Linked DNA regions of Homo sapiens. The protein of the gene in region 2 purifies or fractionates together with the protein of the main gene of each other region. This does not show direct contact. Each region holds a gene or a part of one and is shown on either strand. Other genes may lie near its edges.

Region 1 (9,641 bases), on a different chromosome or scaffold from region 2:
AGATGAATGGTAGCTTATTCAGTTTTGATGAGTTCCTTTAAACTGCCTCCTAGCTAAAATACTGCTTATTTAATATTTTCATGACATTTTGGTAAATTAAAAAAGTAATTTGTCTCTAAATTTCTAAAACTTTTAATTTTAGCTGAATGCAATGGCCAACAGAGCAGCTGGAAAAGGTTATGAAAATGAAGACAACTATTCCAATATTAGATTTCAGTTTGTTGGAATTGAAAATATTCATGTCATGAGGTCCAGCCTTCAGAAATTATTGGAAGGTATATTATTGCTTACTTTTTTAGACACCCTTGTCCAAAAGAAATCTAATGCTAGTCACATGTAATTTAGAATTTTCCAGTGGTCACATTTTAAAAAGTAAAAAGAAACAAGTGAAATTAATTTTAATAATATCCTTACTTAATATATTATAAACATTATTTTAACATGTAGTCAATATAAAAAAAATCAGTAATGAGATATTTTTCTTTTCATCAACTCTTAGAAATCAGGCATGTATTTTACACTTACTACACATCTGAGTTTGGACAAGCCATATTTCAAATGTTTAGTAGCCGTATTTGGTTAGTGGCTGCTGTATTAGACAGTACAATTCTAATGGTTTTGCAAAAAAAATGTTATTAGATAGATATTCTTGAGTAGTCAGTACAATAAATACTAATTTGTAGTAATGTTCATTTAAATATTCCAGTCATAGTATAGAATTTAAAAAATTAAAATATAAGATTATTTTTAGTTAGATGCTTGTGCTACAATGTTTTTTAAGAGATTGGAGCATTTTTGTAAGCACGGGAATAATAGAAAAATATATCCAAGAATCAGTTATTGAGCTTTTAATAGCATCTTTTCATTTATAGAGTCTTGCCTGTTTATTTTGTCTTCTTTCTTCATTCACTTATCTAGAGAGATCTTGAAAAAAGAAATGCAGAAACTCTAGCCATATTCTAATTGAAATATTTTTATACCTCTTTCAGTCAATGGCACTAAAGGGCTTTCTGTCAATGATTTCTACTCCGGTTTGGAGAGCTCGGGATGGCTTCGCCATATCAAAGCTGTTATGGATGCTGCAATCTTCTTGGCCAAAGTAATACTTTATCTTTCATATTTGGTCTTGGGGTCTATAATGATTGGGAAGGAGTAGATGTATTCTGTTGGGGGCTGGTATCTATTCATCAGATAACTTTTATTATTTTTTACCTCTTTAATGAGCTTCACTTTATTTTCAGCCTTAAAAATATCATGTAGCACTTAATGTAGAAACTTAAAAAGATGCTCCTAAATACTTTGAAGTGGCATTTTTTCTTTGTTTTTTTTTTGTTTGTTTGCTTGTGTTTTTGTTGTTACCATATTTTGTTGTGTATTTTGGAAATTATGCTGTGACATTATCATTGCAGGCATAGCACTTCCTTGTAACACAATACCTGCTAGTATGATTTTCAAGTAGAATTTATTGGTTTACCTTAAAGTACGCTAGAATGTATGTGATCTTTCTTTTCAGGCAATAACAGTTGAAAATGCAAGTGTGTTGGTGCATTGTTCCGATGGTTGGGATAGGACTTCCCAGGTTTGTTCCCTGGGTTCTCTTTTATTGGATTCCTACTACAGGACAATCAAAGGATTCATGGTAAGGATTTATTTGGTTAGACCAATGGTTCTTAAGTAGGAGTAATTTTATGTTCCTCCAGAGGACATTTGGCAATGTTGGAGACAGTTTTGCACTAAAGGAAATGATGAGACTGGCATCCGTGGGAGTGGCCAGGGATATTGCTAACTAAACATTTTATAATGCACAAAATTTTTGCTGGGGGGTCAGCCTCACAGCAAAGACTGATCTGGCCTGTAATGTCAGTACTGTCGAGGTTGAAAAACCTTGAATTAGACTTATTTCCATTTGTGCTAACACTGACAATAAGCTTTAGATTTAAATAATTTTTTTTCCTAAAATGTTGCAATGGAAATATTCAGTATTTTCTCCCTCATTTTTATCTAACAAATGTAAATAATGTAATAAAACAATGCACAAATAAGAGTACTTAAAATTAAATTCTGAAGGAAACCTTCTATTTAAAACACCTGCATTAGTAAGTGTAATAACATATTAGGCATGTTTTATATCTGAAGATAAAATTTCTAGTTGAATAGATTTTCTCCTTTGTGAAGATAAAGACCTAGTTCCTTTTTTTTGTTTCTTTGCTTTTAAAGGTATGATCAGATTTTTATTTGCTTGCTTTTAAACGTGTGAGCAGATTAACTTATGTTTTCAAAATTTACATCTTAACTCATGGTAAATTAAATGAAGAGATGTTAGAAAATTTTCATTAGTCTTGAATTATTAAATACAGTGCCATCTTAAAGCAAAGGAAGATTTAAAATCACCAGTCCCTTTTCAGCACCGCTATTTTTTGCTGCTAACATACCGACTCTGGGACAGGCCAAGCGGGAGTGCTGCTAATAAGAAAATAATGCTCAGCTTACCTTGAGAGTGTACGATAAGGAATATTTTCTTTGCCATGTTTGGCTTTAATTATTTGTTAGACATCCAAATGAAATCATGTAATAAATGGGGATGATGTGAGAGCTTCCCAGGCAATAGGAACAGTGTAAATCAAAGCATAACCTCTTTGGGTGACTGCAGGTAATGTGTGATGGATGGAGTTCAGAGTGAGTATTAGAATAGGGGGCTTGGAGGCAGAGGAATAGAGTGGGGTCAGGGCCTGAGAAAGAGAAGGCTGGAATGGGGCTTTCCCCTCTTTGGATAATGGGAGCTATTAAAGAGTTTTAAACAAGCAAACAGTAACTTGATTAGATGTGCTTTTTAAAAAGGTGGCTTGGTATCTTGAAGGCCAAAGGGAGTGGGAATGGAGGCTAGGAGGCGAGTGTAGACACTATTATGATAACTTATGAGACAAAAGTTTTTAATTTTACCAAACTAAAATAGTAACACACAAGTGAAGGGGGAGGTGATGGGTTCCAGGGATGTTTAGAGAGTAGAGTCAGTGGCTGGGCGCAGTGGCTCACGCCTGTAATCCCAGCACTTTGGGAGGCCAAGGCGGGTGGATCATGAGGTCAGGAATTCGAGACCAGCCTGGCCAATATGGTGAAACCCTGTCTCTGCTAAAAATACAAAAATTAGCCGGGCATGGTGATGTGTACCTATAATCCCAGCTACTCAGGAGGCTGAGGCAGAAGAATTACTTGAACCCAGGAGGCGGAGGTTGCAGTGAGCCAAGATTGCGCCACTGCACTCCAGCCTGGGCAACAGAGTGAGACCCTGTCTCAAAAAAAAAAGAAAGTAGAGTCAGGAAGAATTGATCATGGATTGGATGTGGGATAGAAGAGAGGAGTCTTCCTCTGGGATGATTTCCAAGTTTCTGAATTAGGTGCCAGGATGGATGGTGCTGCTCTCTGGCTCTTCACTGAGATAAGCCAAAGAATACATTTAGTGAGAAAGATATTGAGTTATGCTTTAAACATGGTTTTGTAGAAGAATGGCAGAGAGACCAGAATAAAATCTGTGGCTCCAGCCACAAGGTCACACAAAGTGGTGAAGCTGGGATTGGAGCCTGTGCCTGAGCTCCAGCGACTACATCCTCAGCCACATCAGTGTATAGCCTTCTGCGGAAAGCAGAGGCTTGAGACAAAATCAGAGAAGCTAAAACCAGCAGTTTTGACACTATGAAAATAATGTGCTTGGTGACTGTATAGTTAAGTGATAAAGTGTACTAAATACTACAAATATGTGTTTAGATTAGACTGAAAAAGTTAGAAATCTGTTTTTACAGTGGAGTGGGTAAGTAGAGAAGCTGTGGCAAGGAAAACATAAAGTCAGTCCATTCAAGAGGATAGATGTTAACACTTGGATCTGAACATGAACTCAAGTAAGATGATTTGATTAAAATAATTGGTCTTTTTATCATTAGTTTTTTTTTCTTAAAAAAAGTAGTATATAAATAATATAAAAAATGTACAAGTAAGCCAAAAGTTTTAAAATATCCACCTCAGTCTACCACCTAGAGTTATCCTTTGTTAGCAGTTTTGGTTTACATTTTTCTAGCCTTTTTCCTATGATATATCATCTTCATACATACAAAAACTTAAATGTAATACTGCTTTATAACATGTACTTTTCACTTAAAATGTAATAAATTCAACGGAAATAATTTAAGTCACGAAACTACTCTATTTCTTTTTATGCATTTTTATTCTTCTTTAACCCCACCTCGAATCAAGGTTTTGGCATTCTTTTGCCTGTGGTTTTTTGTGCTGTTTTGTTTATAAGTTAAAAGTGTACAGTAAATACTGTTTTTAAACTAATAAGATTTAATCCAGCCTAAACAAAATAATTGAAAGTAGTCAGAAAGTGAATTTTACTTTTTCTCATTAAGGTTTTAATAGAAAAGGATTGGATCTCTTTTGGACATAAATTTTCAGAGAGGTGAGTCACAGTTACACAGTCATATATTTTATAAAATTAGTAAACCAAGTTTAGAATGCCAAAATGTTTCTGTTCCTTATGAACTCACATGCGTGATGGGAGGTAAGAGTGTCATGGTTTTTACTGTATTTTACGTAAAGACATTTAATTTTTTTCTGTAATTTCTTTCAATTCTAGTACGCTTGTTAATTTTCATGACTATTTATTACCTTCCTTTTGGGCTGCATTTTATTTAGAGATGGTAACAGATCCTTTAAAGCTGTGGTTTAAAAACTCATAAATGGTTTCAATAAAAATTCTAGTTTTGCATGCTAATGTAACAGTGCTTTAGGAATATTTTTGTATGTTTAAGATTAACAATACCTGAACAATGGACCTTTCAGAGGTGTTTTTAAAAGCTTATACTTTCTGTGGGGTTAGGTGTGGCCAGTTGGATGGTGACCCAAAGGAAGTCTCACCAGTGTTTACTCAGTTCTTGGAATGTGTGTGGCATTTGACCGAACAGTTTCCACAAGCCTTTGAATTCAGTGAAGCATTTCTTCTTCAGATCCATGAGCATATTCATTCATGCCAGTTTGGAAACTTCCTTGGAAATTGTCAGAAGGAAAGAGAAGAGCTCAAGTAAGATGATTCAATTAAAAGAGTCTCCTTTTCCCCCTACTTAGCCGAGGTCTAACAAAAATCATGTTTGAAACTTAATAAAATATCTTGACAATTTGAAAGTTTATTGTAAAGATTTTATTTTTTGTATTTCTAAAGCTGAGTACCCTTCTAATATTCCCCCACCTTTCAGCTAATAGTAAAAGCACATTATAAAATGTGTTTTGAAGTGTAGCATACATACAGAAAAGTACATAGAGCGTTAAGTGTGAAGCTCAGTAAATCTTACCAAACTCACACACCTATGTAACCAGCACCCAGAATATGAAATGTTGTCAACACCCTGGAAAGTCTCCTCATGCTTCTTTTCGGTCTGCATTTATATATTTTAGAACAGAGAAATCCTTATGCTGTTTAATTTCCCAGAATGTATCAGTCGCTAGTTTTAAAGTGTAAAATATTTTAAACTGTTGGTTTGTTTTAAGATAGGATGGAGCCTTATAGCTCTCCCCACATTTCTAAACAGACAGTTCTTTGGGGAAAATAAATCTAGCTATGTTGGCTGCAGCGTGTCCGTCCTTGAGTAGGGTCTCAGAAAAGCCCTGAGACACTACTTGACCCTAGTTCATGTTATTTCCTGACCAGTCTTCGGGGATAGGGGTTTTTGCCTAAATTTTGCTGTAAGGAAGATCTCTGGAGTAGGTCTTAGAGGTCCTATGTATATTGTTTTAGGTTGGGCTTCTGAGTTTGGATTTCTTTATTGCCTCTTACAGTAGGCAATAAAGAGCACTTAACAGACTTTTGAACATCCAAGGGACATATTAAGGAAGCTAAATCTGGTAGTATTTGAAGATAGCCACATGCTCACACTCCCAACAGAGTAAACAGCAGAACTGAGAGCATGTGGAAAATTCTAAAAATGCGTAAAGGGAATAAAAAGTGAATAGAGAATGGTGGAGATGAACAATCAAAGAACATTGAGGCTTTAGCTCTATGTTACAGTGATTCAAAATAGTTTATTATAATTTGGAGCACAGAGGTAACTCTTTTCCTGGAGTACAGAGCTATTTTAGGAAAAACTATTCTTAATTAGTGCCAAACATTCTCAAAAATGGAAAGATGGAAGTAAAAGTAGATATTTCCTAGTAGTTTTTCTCCAAGACACACCTATGGGTCATCTTAGGAGTTATGGAAAAATCAGGAGATTTTCCACTTTCCCCCTGGATACCTACATTATGTTTACTTGGTAAATGTCCAGTCTAAAACCATTCTTACCTTTGCCCAGCTACTCTTAGATTTGCAAAATAATTGGCTTTTAAAATTCTTGCATAACATCCTGATTTTGCCTGTTCCCTTTTTGTACCCACTCACACTTACGTGTGCTCCTGCCCTATGATACTCGCCACTACGGCCCAGACGTGGGGTTAAGAGAAGGCCAGACAGAAAGATGCATTAGTGTCTTGTTCTATGTGTATGTTTGTGGTGATTTGAAGTAGGTGGAACAGAGACCAAGTTTTTGAAATTGTGTGAGTTGAGAGGAATCCCTTAAAATATATGGTTGTGAGAGAAAATGTTATACCTGTGTTGTGTTCAAGAAACATGACTTTATTACCTAATTATGAATGAAAAAGGAGAATAGAGATAATACAGAATTCTGAGACAAGGTTAGACTGTGAATACAAGAAAAAACTAAAATTTAAATCTGCTTCGGAAGCCATCGCCTGATTTATAAAAATGAATATTACCATTACTACTTTGCATCTATAGGAAAGATCTCTGTGTTTTTCTCATTATATTAAGGTTGAAGGAGAAGACTTATTCCCTGTGGCCATTTCTTTTGGAAGACCAAAAGAAGTACTTAAATCCTCTCTACAGTTCCGAATCTCACAGATTTACAGTTTTGGAGCCAAATACAGTATCTTTCAATTTTAAGTAAGTTGACATCATTGGAGTATTTATACTTGAATTTTCTCAAACACAATTTATTGAAACTTTTTTTTGTCATAAAGGTTTTGGAGGAACATGTACCATCAATTTGATCGAACACTGCATCCTAGGCAGTCTGTATTTAATATAATTATGAATATGAATGAGCAAAATAAACAATTAGAGAAAGATATTAAAGACCTAGAATCTGTAAGTATTCTGAAGTATCTAATATATTTGGAATGTGAAATTAGTTTACGATTAGACTAATATTTGTATTGTTGGTGTAAATCAGCACATAAACTTCTGAAGTAAGCAGTTTCTTCAAAATCAGGTCATCCCTACTTTGATTGAATACGTTAGTTCGAATCACTTTCTTTGTATTTTAAAATACATTAAAATACCGGAAGTATATAGCATAACGTATAGATAAACATAATAACTATCTGTGTACCCACCAGCTAGCTTTTGTGGGATTTTAACATTTACTATATATGCCTCAGATCTTTCTTGTTCTTGTTTTAAGAAATAAAACATAGGCCGGGCGCAGTGGCTCACGCCTGTAATCCCAGCACTTTGGGAGGCCGAGGCGGGTGGATCACCAGGTCAGGAGAGTTTGAGACCAGCCTGGTCAGCACAGTGAAACCCCATCTCTACTAAAAAAATAACAAAAAAGTAGCCGGGCATGGTGGCGCATGCCTGTAATCCCAGCTACTTGGGAGGCTGAAGCAGGAGAATTGCTTGAACCTGGGAGGCGGAGGTTGCAGTGAGCCAAGATCATGCCTCTGCACTCCAGCCTGGGTGACAGAGCAAGACTCCATCTCAAAACAAAAACAAACAAAAAAAAAAGAAATAAAACATAGATCTATTTGAAGACCCTCTATACTCTTACCCAGTCTTCACCCATGTATCACAATTTATAATACTGTTTTTCTTGACTTAAAATATTTTTACTGTGTATTGAAAAAATACCAAAGACTATCTATAATGTTTGTATGAGTTGTAAAGGGAAACAGACAATGTATAGGCCAATATACCCTTCACTCTGCTTAAGAAACTGATGTTTTAAAACTATATAAAAGTTACCATACTGTTTATGTGCTTCATTTTGCTCAACAGTGTTTTGACATTTATCCATGTTGATACATGTAGCTTTTATTCATCTTTTTATTAGTAACTACTATATAACTTTATATTATATGAATATATCACAGTCTATCCATTCAGCTATGGATGAATATTTAAATTGTTTTCAGTTTTGGATTTCCATGATTACAAATGAAGTTAAATGACTTTCCATATTTGTTGGCCATTTGGTTTTCCTTTTCTGTGAATGGACTGTTCAAACCTTTGCTCATTTTTCTGTTGGCATATTTGCCTTTTTCTTAGTGATTTGTAAGAGTTGTTTATATGCCAGGCACTAATTCTTTGTTAGTTATATATATTACAAATGGTTTTGTCCAGCCTATTGTCTTTTCCACTTTATTTATGGTATGCTATATATAGATGTTTTGAATTTTCATGTCAAATTGCTCAATGTTTTATGCTTTCTGTGTGTGTCTTGTTTAACAAATCCCTCTCTACCCTAAGACTTTCCTATAATCTTTTTTCTGCCATCCTATATAAGCAAAAAGGATCAGTAAGTATATATATATTTTTTAAATCCTAGACAGTTATAACAGTAAGACTGTCTCATCTACCTCTCAGGCAGGAGTCTCCCTTAGTCATCTTTTAGATAAAGAGGTAATGACTGCTTGAGTAAATTGTAGAAGGATATGGTCAAGAGAGGCAAGTCCAGGATAATAGGTAATACAAGATTATCGGGACAGTCCAAGAATTTGGAGAGCATGATACTCTGCCACAGGACACTTTAAAAATCTTCTGTTAAAAAAGTAAAGTTCTGTTGTGTTTAAAGTCTGTTATTTTTACCTAACAAACCACTGTAGGAAAACCATGTAAGAAAAACTCTATATAGTCAGTGAGCCCTTTAGCTACACAAGTTTGTTTGTTGTGTTTTCAGGGTGAATGTTTCATACACATTTCTTTTATTATAAATGTTTACCTGTTATGCTTTCTAGGTAATATATGTCCATTTTAAGTGTGGAAGCCTAGTGATCGCCTGCAGTCAAGTCTTGCTGGATTGTTTGTTTAATAAATATAAAAACTAACAATTTTCCACAGCAAAAAATTGTACACAATTAGGATTTTCAACCATGTCATATGCATTAAATGTTTCTACTTTTTTGAGATTTAGTTTTGCATTATACATACAGAGAACATATTTTGCAAAAGCATGTTTTCTTTTTTCATGTAACATATTGTGGCTTATGCAATTAGTAATTTTTTCAAATTTGTGTTTGTTCTAGAAAATTAAACAACGCAAAAATAAGCAAACAGATGGCATCCTCACCAAGGAATTGTTACATTCAGTTCATCCTGAATCACCTAACCTCAAAACTTCCCTGTGTTTTAAAGAGCAGACTCTGCTACCCGTAAATGATGCTCTTCGAACTATAGAGGGCAGCAGCCCGGCAGATAATCGTTATAGTGAATATGCAGAAGAGTTTTCTAAATCAGAACCTGCTGTGGTCAGCTTAGAGTATGGTGTGGCAAGAATGACTTGTTAGACTCATAGAGTTTTTTCTGCAATGATTGCAGTACAAGA
Region 2 (9,641 bases):
CTGGGATTACAGGTGTGAGTCACTATGCCCACCTTGAATTTCTTCTTTTAATATATGTACAGGGAAAATTTGGGATAGGAGTACTGTCTATTCCACTTACACTACCTGTCCTTCCTCACATCCTCATGAGCCAGCTGAGTTCACCTTGGTTATTCTTCCCCAAACCCTGGATAACTTCTGCACCTCTCACTCTGCAGGCTCCACTTCTGCCCTTCTATTTCCTTTGCTTCCTTCTAGCTCAGGCCTCAACCTGTCTGCTGTCCCTCCTAGCAAGTCTTCCTCACATGGCGATTACAACTTGCTAACTTGCTAATCTAACCTTGCCCTGGGCTACCTGAGACCACCCAGGCTCCTCTTTGCCTTTGGGATGGGGTCCTACATAACTCCTGAGCATGAATAAAGAGGCTGCCTCCTCCTCCTGGGAGGTGTCTTTCACCAAATTCTGTCTCTGCTATTCTCAAACTTCCAGTTTCTCAATGTGTCATTCTCTTTCCACTTCTCAGTGCTTTCCTGAGGGCTGTTCCTCTAGCAATGTAATTCCTCTCGCAGAATTCAACTCAGGCATCAGCTTTCTTAGAAATCCTTCATTCACCCTCTCTCTGCCTTTTGCCCCTTGGGACATTAGCTCAGACCCTGCACACCTATGCACATCTTCATCCTTGGACTTACTATACTCATTGGACATTACCTGCTTATCGTTCTGCCTGCTAGATTGCTAGCTCCTTGTTTAGCTTGCTACCTCAGCATCCACAACAGCATCTGACAGATAGCTGTGCTCTGTTAATAGCTGCTGAACAGAGTGGAACTGCTACCTCTCCTTGGAGCACCTGTCCTCCACCCGCTTCCTAGTTCTCTATATGGTAGGAGCCTATTGAGCCTTCAAAATCCAGCCCCAAAACCCTTCTTTTAAAATATCTTTCTGTTAGGCAGAGATAGTCATTCTCTTCTCTTGTTACTTTTCTATCCATACATCTACTAAAGCAGCTACCACAGTATAATACATTGGCTTTCGTATTCTTTTACCCAGTAGACTGTGAGTCTCTAATCCACGGCTTCTCATTTCTATATTCCTACTGCCCTTCCCAGTGCCTGACATACATTTTTTTTTACTAGTGTATTATTCATCTTCCCCATTGGAATGTAAACTCTGAGGGCAAAGACCTTGCCTGTCTTATTTGCCACCGTATTCCCAGCTCTGAAAATCATGCTTGATATAGAACAATCAGTATTAGCTATACTTAAGTGGTCCTTAACTCTTAAAAATCAATGCAATTTAAGAGTATTGTGCACCACACTAATGGTGCTTTACTAGAGCACAAAATCACATTTCATTGCCACTTACGTTTATTTACATGCTATATTCTTTTTTTTTTTTTTTTTTAAAACAGGGTCTCACTCTGTTGCCCAAACTGGAGTGCAGTGGCGTGATCTTGGCTCACTGCAACCTCTGCCTCCCGGGTTCAAGCAATTCTTGTGCCTCAGCCTCCCAAGTAGCTGTGATTACAGGCATGCACCACTATGCCCAGCTAATTTTTTTTTTTTTTGTATTTTTAGTAGAGATGGAGTTTTGCCATCTTGCCCATGCTGGTCTCAAACTCCCGAGATCAAGTAATCCTCCTACCTTGGCCTCCCAAAGTGCTGGGATTACAGGCGCGAGCCACCGCACCCAGCCTATATTTAAAAACAATTTTTAAAAAAATTTTTCTTTTTCTTTTCAAAATCCAAAATCAGGTCAAATACGTTCTATATTCTTAAAACAATCTCCAGAAATCACCTAATAAGGATGCTTTGTAAACATCTCTGGGAGAGAATTTGGGGATGACTGATTCTTCATCATCACACAACAAATTTGCTGCAGTCTTCTAAATGGCCTCACTTGAACATATTCATAATCTAAATTAGTTTGGGTTAGTAAAAAGATGCTTACCTTGCTCTAACCCAGGGTTTGGTGTGCATGTCCAAACCACTTCCCCAGCTGCCATGTTTTTCTGAAGCTGGTGGCAAAAAGCCCCTTTCTGGGGCCAGCTCCTCTGCAATTGCCCTGATGTGGTAGGGCTCAAATCCACAGCACCCGCCAATGTACCTGACCCCCAGGTTGTAGGCCTCTCTGGCGTATTTTTGAATATCCCATCTGGTGGCAACTCTGGGTTCCAGTCCTGTAATAAGTGGCATTATGCCATTAGGCATTATACATTCTTTTCATAAAAATTCAAGATAAGTAGCTACAAGTATGTAATTTTCAATAAATGAATTGTTTTCAATATTCAATTTTTACATTTAAGAAAAAACTTTGCTACTTTGTGTTGTATGTTCACTTTTACATGCTGTGGTATCCAGCCTTCAGGAGGTTCCAAATGACCCCTGCCCTTTGATGTTTTTCTTCTTGTGCAGTCCCCTCTTGCATTATAACAGGGCTGGTCTGTGAGATCCATAGAATATGGCAGAACTGGCATGTGACTTCAGAGTCTAGGCTATACAAAACATCATGGTTTCTGCCTTGCACTTTCTTGGAGCACTCACCCTGGGGAAAGCCAGCTGCCATGTTGCAAGCATCACATGTTTCAAGCATGTTTTCTAGCATCACAGTGAAAAGGCCCATGAGCTGAGGAACTGAGGCCCCCAGTCAACAGACAGCAAGAAACTGACACTAACTCCCAAAAACCAATTAAGTGAGCTAGGAAGTAGATCCCCCAGCTCCCAACAGGCCTTCAGGTGATAATAGCCCTGGCAAATATCCGGACTCCAACCTCTTAGGAGACCCTGAACCAAAACCACCTAGTTATGCTATCCCTGAATTCTTGACCTGGAGAAACTGTGAGATAAGAAGTGGTTTTTCAAGCCACTACATTTTGCATTAATTTAATGTGTTATACAGCAGTAAGTAACACAAATGCCTTGCCTTTCTTCCTCTGTGGCTCCTCCAGAGTGATTGTATTTTATAATATCTTACTTGTCTAAGGGTCCCTATAAAATATAGGATAGGGTGTAAAGACCTTAGAAGGAAATAGGAGGCTGGGCATGCTCTGCCCCTGCTGACCACTCTGGCTTAATTTGTGAGATCAACCCACCCGCTCTTCCCAATCATGCTGGGAAAGTTTTTCCTTCTGCCTGGACTGCAAGTATCCCCTCACTTCATCTGCTTGGTCTCTTCATTAAAACTTGTTATACAGTCACTCGATGATGGTATCTTGCCTGCAATCCCAAAACTCTGGAGTAGCTGAGCCATATTAAAAATTGGAGAAAAGGACCTTAGAGATAACTGGTCTGATCTTATTTTCCCAATAAAGAATTTGAGAGCTAGAGGAATTTAAAGATTTTCCTAAGGTGACAGGACTTAGCAACAGAGCTGGAACTAGAACTAAATATCTGTTGATTCTCCCATGAAGGGCATCCTCACCAACCCCAAAGTATGACTCACTAGTTGTCTGTTTAGATGCTGATTCACCTTAGATTTTATATTTAAATTCAGAGATCTTTTTTGCTAGCTGGGACCATCCTTTCCTTCTGCTCTTCTCTAATACGAAGGGGCTTTTGGCTGCAGGGACAGAAACCAGGGACAAGACATGAGGAGACACCAAGCCATCTCTTCACTATGACAAAAGATCTCTGGGTATAGATTTACTTGAGTTTATATGCATATCAAATGAAGATATTGAGATGATTCATCAAATGTTGGTCTTACCAAATGGGAATTCTGGGAGATCGATGAATCCCTGCTTGTTGCAGTCAGGAGTGTGGTAAGCCAAGGGCTGGCTCATCAGGTGAGCTTTCAGTCGGGCAGCCTCCAAGCCCTCCTTCATGAGCTTCACTGTTTTTAAACTAATGGTGGGGTCAAAGTGGCAGTTCACACCAATGATGGATGCTCCTGTGAGTGGGAAGAACATGATAGACTTAGGGATGCACCAGAAACCAGCAGGGCCAGCTCTCCTCTCTTCATCAGGAATCAGGAAGTTCTTTTTTCATTTTTTGAGACACAATCTCACTCTGTTGCCCAGGCTGGAGTGCAGTAGCGTGATCTCAGCTCACTGCAGTCTCCACCTCAAGTGATCAAGCAATCCTCCCACCTCAGCCTCCCAAGTTGCTGTGACTACAAGTGTGTGCCACCACGTCTGGCTAATTTTTGTTTGTTTGTTTGTTTTTTTATAGATATGGGGTTTCGCCATGTTGCCCAGGCTGGTCTCGAACTCCTGAGCTCAAGTGATCCAACAGCTTCCCAGACTGCTGGGATTACAGGCATGAGCCACCACACCCAGCAGGAAGCTTTTAATTGGAATGATGAACTGGAAGCATAGCATTAGGTCCTCATTCCCCACAAACCTCTTACCTTTGAGTGAGAATGATTACTAGCAGGCAGGAAGTGCTTTCTGTGAAAGTGCTTTGAAGAGTCTGGTATAATTGAAGTGTAATTTGTGCACATTTGGCTGTCCATCTCTTTTTTTTTTTTTTTTTTTCTGAGACACAGACTCTTGCTCTGTTGCCCAGGCTGGAGTGCAGTGGCACGATCTCAGCTCACCACAGCCTCTGCTTCCTGGGTTCAAGTGATTCTCCTGCCTCAGCCTCCTGAGTAGCTGGGACTATAGGCGCACACCACCACGACAGGCTAATTTTTGTGTTTTTAGTGGAGACAGGGTTTCACCATGTTGGCCAGGATGGTCTCCATCTCCTGACCTTGTGATCCGCCCAGCTCAGCCTCACAAAGTGCTGGGATTACAGGTGTGAGCCACCATGCCCAGCCCTATCCATCTTTTTTCAAAAAAAAATTATTAGAATTTTTTTAAACTTCAAATTTTAGTAGTCAAACTTTCAACGTTGGACATTATGTTGCAAGCACAATAATTTTTCAACACTCCCAGCTGCTAGACTACACCTGTGTTTACCATACTGCTTGCTTGAGGTGTAAATAAATATTCCTTTTCACCAGGCCAACTTAATAAGTTCATTAGCCTTCTTGGGCACAGCAGCAGAATGTAATTTAGAAAAAAGTTTTTTAGACACGTGTTTGCTAGAAGGAATTTTGTGTCTAGGATTAATAGTTTGGGGAAAAAGAATCTCAAAAATCCTTTGACTTCAGCTACTCAATGTGGTTACTAGCCTATCAATCATTTTGACAAGCTTTTAATTTACATTTCAGCCTCCCCAGACTCACAACTATATGGGATTGTCTTCCTACAGTATTCTTGTAAAATTTGGTGCTGTGAAGTTTGATTTAGTGAGAACAAACTATGTTTTAGATATTTCATTTTCTTCAAAAACTTTCTTTATAGTCATTATGTTCTTAACTATATTTGGACCACAGATGATTTACCATGGCAATCACTAGACATGATTTTGGAAGTTTCCTCCTCCAGAAGATTTGAGAAGGCATTATGACATTATAATTCTTTTACTCTCTCCTCTCAAAGTGGGAGGAATTCCCAAATAGGACTTTTCTTTCCTTTTTTTTTTTTTGCATTTTAAAAATGGTGGTAAAATATATATCATGTAAAACTGGGCATTTTAACCTTTTTAAAAAATTTTATTTTTTTGTAGAGACAAGGCCTCATTATGTTGCCCAGGCTGGTCTTGAACTTCTGGCCTCAAGCGATCCTCACACCTTTGCCTCCCAAAGTGCTGGGATTGTAGGCATGAGCCCCTGCATCTGGCGCATTTTAGCCATTTTTAAGTGGCATTAATTATATTCACAATGTTGTGCAACCATTATCACTATTTCCACATTTTTTCGATACCCCAAAGAGAAACTCTACCCATTAAGAACTAACTCCTTATTTTCCCCTTCTGCTAGCCCCTGGTAACCTCAAATCTACTTTCTGTCTCTGTGGATTTGCCCATTCTAGATATGTCATATAAACAAAATCATATGATATTTGTCATTTTGTGAGTGGCTTAGTTTACTTAGCATGATGTTTCCAAGGTTCATCCCTGTTATGGCATGTTTGAGAACTTCATTTCTTCTTATAGCTGCATGATATTTCATTGTATGGATACACCACATTTTGTTTTATCCATTCACCTGTTGATGAACTCTGAGATTGTTTCCACCCCCAAAAAGGACTTTTTTGGGCCAGGTGCAGTAGCTCATGCCTGTAATCTTAGCACTTTGCGAGGCTGAGGCGGGTGGATTACCTGAGGTCAGGAGTTCAAGACCAGCCTGGCCAACATGGTGAAACCCCGTCTCTACTAAAAGTACAAAAATTAGCTGGACGTGGTAGTACACATCTGTAATCCCAGCTACTTGGGAGGCTGAGGCAGGAGAATCACTTGAACCCAGGAGGTGGAGGTTACAGTGAGCCAAGACGGTGCCATTGCACTCCAGCCTGGGCAACAGAGCAAAAACTCTGTCTCAAAACCAACCAACCAACCAACGAACCAACCAACCAACCAACCAACCAACCAAAAAGGACTTTTTTGGATGGACTCATGGCCTAGGATTTTGTATTTTGTATATAGAGATACCAAGAACAAGAGCAAGAGAGATTATTTCTGGATGCAGCATGAGTGATGAGTGACCCCAGTGTTCAGCTCCCAGGAGCAGCAGAGCTGGTGCCACAACCCATGGAATCCAGTGGTGAGTGGCAGGTGTCTTTGCTGTTGCTGGGCTGGGTCTGCAGTTTGCTCTTCATTCTTGTTCCAAGTAGGCCTCACTCCCCTTCATTCCTCTGAAACAGCTTTTGTTAAGGTTACCAATGACCTCAACCTTGCCAAATCCAGCAGCTGCTTCTCTGTTCTCATCTCACTGAAGCTCTCAGCAGTATGCAACCTAGTGGACAACTTCCTCCTTCATTGACACTCCCCTTCTCTTGGCTTCTGCAACTTCCCACACACTGTCCAAGTATTGTTTCTACTTTGCTGGTTTATTATTTTAATAAATGTCCTGTTTAATATTCTTTTTAAAAATGTCTTCATGTTCTGTGCTGTCTCCTCCTCAAGGCTAAAACTCTCAACTGGAGTGTTCCAAGATTGCACTGATTCATCTTTTCTTCCCCATTTAAACTTCCTTTTCTGTCCTAGGCTTTCAATACCATCTATATCCAGGTCTCTCCCATATTCCTCTCTCTTACCCTGACCTTCCCATTGGGCTCCAGATTTGAATATTGTGGATATATGCAAGTATCCAGAAGTAAATATACTTGTATGTGTGTGTATACCTATGTAGCCAGAATATGTGTGTGTATATATACATATACTTATATATTTTATATATATATATTCATCAGATTGTGTATACATATACTCACAAGTATATATATCCACAATATCCAAGTCTGGAACCAAGTGGGAAGATCATTGATATCAACTAAGCTATAAGCTGTTGAAGATTTTTGGCTACCCTTTTTTTTTGGATGTTGTGCTGCCAGAGTTTCTCTTTCCTTGCTTAATTAACTTCATTATATTAATAAATTAATAATATGTTGGCTATTTATTGGATGTCTTTTAGGTGTAAGCCTCCTTGCAAGAGATTATAGAGAAGTAGAAATAAAGGACATTGTTCCTGACATCAACAATTTTATAATTTAGCACAGGGTTTTCCAAGGTTTGGTCCATGAAAATAATGTTCCATGATCAATTAAGTTAGGAAGTAGCTGTTCACCACATCACCTTCTTGGAGACTAGGAATATATGTGAACATATCAAAGATATTGATAAGTTCCACAGTAAAGATATCTGCCTAAGGCCGGGCGCAATGGCTCACACCTGTAATCCCAGCACTTTGGGAGGCCGAGGCGGGTGGATCACGAGGTCAGGAGTTCGAGACCAGCCTGACCAAATAGTGAAACCCCGTCTCTACTAAAAAATACAAAAAATTAGCCAGGCATGGTGGCGGGTGCCCATAATCCCAGCTACTCGGGAGGCTGAGGCAGGAGAATCGCTTGAACCTGGGAGGCGGAGATTGCAGTGAGCCAAGATTGCGCCATTGCACTCCAGCCTGGGCTGCAGTGTGACAAGACTCCGTCTCAAAAAACAAAACAAAACAAGATATCTGCTTAATTTGGTTTAACACAGCATTTTCTAAATGTATTTAACCACAGAACCCTATTAACATTCTCGATGATTGGAAACTATAGACTGAGGATATTCTTTTTTTTTTTTTTTTTATTGAGACGGAATCTCGCTCTTTCGCCCAGGCTGGAGTGCAGTGGCGCAATCTCGGCTCACTGCAAGCTCCGCCTCCCGGGTTCACGCCATTCTCCTGCCTCAGCCTCCCGAGTAGCTGGGACTACAGGCGCCCGCCACCAGTCCCGGCTAATTTTTTGTATTTTTTAGTAGAGGTGGGGTTTCACTGTGTTAGCCGGGATGGTCTCGATCTCCTGACCTCATGATCCACCCGTCTCTGCCTCCCAAAGTGCTGGGATTACAGGCGTCAGCCACCGCGCCCAGCCATTTTTAAAACTTTTCCTCTGGGATTCAATAATATCAATATTCTTACAAAAATAAATTAATGGTTTTTATGTTAACGAAAGTAGTATACACTGATTTGTAGACAGATGTGCACTAGTGTGTTCTTTTAAGACTTACTAATCACAAACTGATTGAAATCTATCATCACCTGCTTTCACCAGGCGCACTGCACACTCGCCGGGGGGCACGCCATGCAAATCTCCTTCTGGGCCAATGCACATGGTTGCTGCCACAGGTTTACCGGATGCTATCAAGGTTTCAACTGCCCACACAGCTTCTTCAACGTGTTCAAAATACTGGAATCAGTTAAGGTTAGAGTACTTTTAATCTCGTTTCTCCCAAAACAATTTTTTTTTTTTTTTTGAGACGGAGTTTTGCTCTTTCACCCAGGCTGGAGTGCTGTGGTGCGATTTCGGCTCACTGCAACATTTGCCTCCCAGTTTCAAGCAATTCTCCTGCCTCCGCCTCCCAAGTAGCTGGGATTACAGGCGCCCGCCACCACGCCTGGCTAATTTTTGTATTTTTAGTAGAGACGGGGTTTCACCATGTTGGCCAGGCTGTTCTCAAACTCCTGACCTCGTGATCCACACGCCTTGGCCTCCCAAAGTGCTGGGATTACAGGTGTGAGCCACCGTGCCCAGCCTTTCCCAAAACAATTTGAAAATGTATTCTATTGCTTAAAAACTTCATTATTACTGTTTTCAAACTTTGAATTGTGACCCATTAGCATTTTTAAAATGAAATAGAATGATTTCTTACTGTAAATTGCAGTCAAAAAGTTTGAAAAACACCATATCAGATTAATTAAATCAAATTTAGTAGTAGCCCTGAATTGGAAAACGATTTCAAAAACTAAATATTACTATTGCTAGTTATGATTGTCACCTAACCCCACACAGTACTCTTGAAAGCAAAAGGTAGAGAAAATGTACTAGGTGTATTTGTCTTATCTTTCACCACATCTTTCTTTACCTCTGCAATCAAGAAGTCCACGTTCTTCTTCATAAAGACCTCTAACTGTTGCAGAAATACTTTTTTGACTTCAGTTTCACTCTTGCAGCTAAGGTATGAAGGTGTCTGACTCACTCCTCCTGCTACCAAAGCATCTCCTTCATCAGCCACTTGTCGGGCGATGTCGCAAGCAGCTTCATTGACTTCCTGCCCCTAAAATGGGTGAGTATATGAGACATCTAAATTTTCATGTGAAATTGAAATAAAATTATTATTCAAACATTCACATCTTA

What was found.
Region 1: the proteins of BHMT (region 2) and MTMR6 purify together in Homo sapiens (affinity purification with mass spectrometry; 2 studies listed by BioGRID and IntAct, with this or other methods). This does not show direct contact.

What each region holds. Positions count from the first base shown.
Region 1 is NC_000013.11:25,249,194-25,258,834, reverse strand, and holds part of MTMR6 (phosphatidylinositol-3,5-bisphosphate 3-phosphatase MTMR6), read left to right. Parts: intron 1-142; coding exon 143-275; intron 276-989; coding exon 990-1,099; intron 1,100-1,513; coding exon 1,514-1,639; intron 1,640-3,762; coding exon of another isoform or gene 3,763-3,813; exon of another isoform or gene 3,814-4,386; intron 4,387-4,400; coding exon 4,401-4,450; intron 4,451-4,870; coding exon 4,871-5,071; intron 5,072-6,850; coding exon 6,851-6,982; intron 6,983-7,059; coding exon 7,060-7,186; intron 7,187-9,342; coding exon 9,343-9,603; 3' UTR 9,604-9,641. UniProt on the Homo sapiens protein: Lipid phosphatase that specifically dephosphorylates the D-3 position of phosphatidylinositol 3-phosphate and phosphatidylinositol 3,5-bisphosphate, generating phosphatidylinositol and phosphatidylinositol 5-phosphate.
Region 2 is NC_000005.10:79,120,270-79,129,910, reverse strand, and holds part of BHMT (betaine--homocysteine S-methyltransferase 1), read right to left. Parts: intron 9,562-9,641; coding exon 9,370-9,561; intron 8,694-9,369; coding exon 8,546-8,693; intron 3,866-8,545; coding exon 3,683-3,865; intron 2,157-3,682; coding exon 1,928-2,156; intron 1-1,927.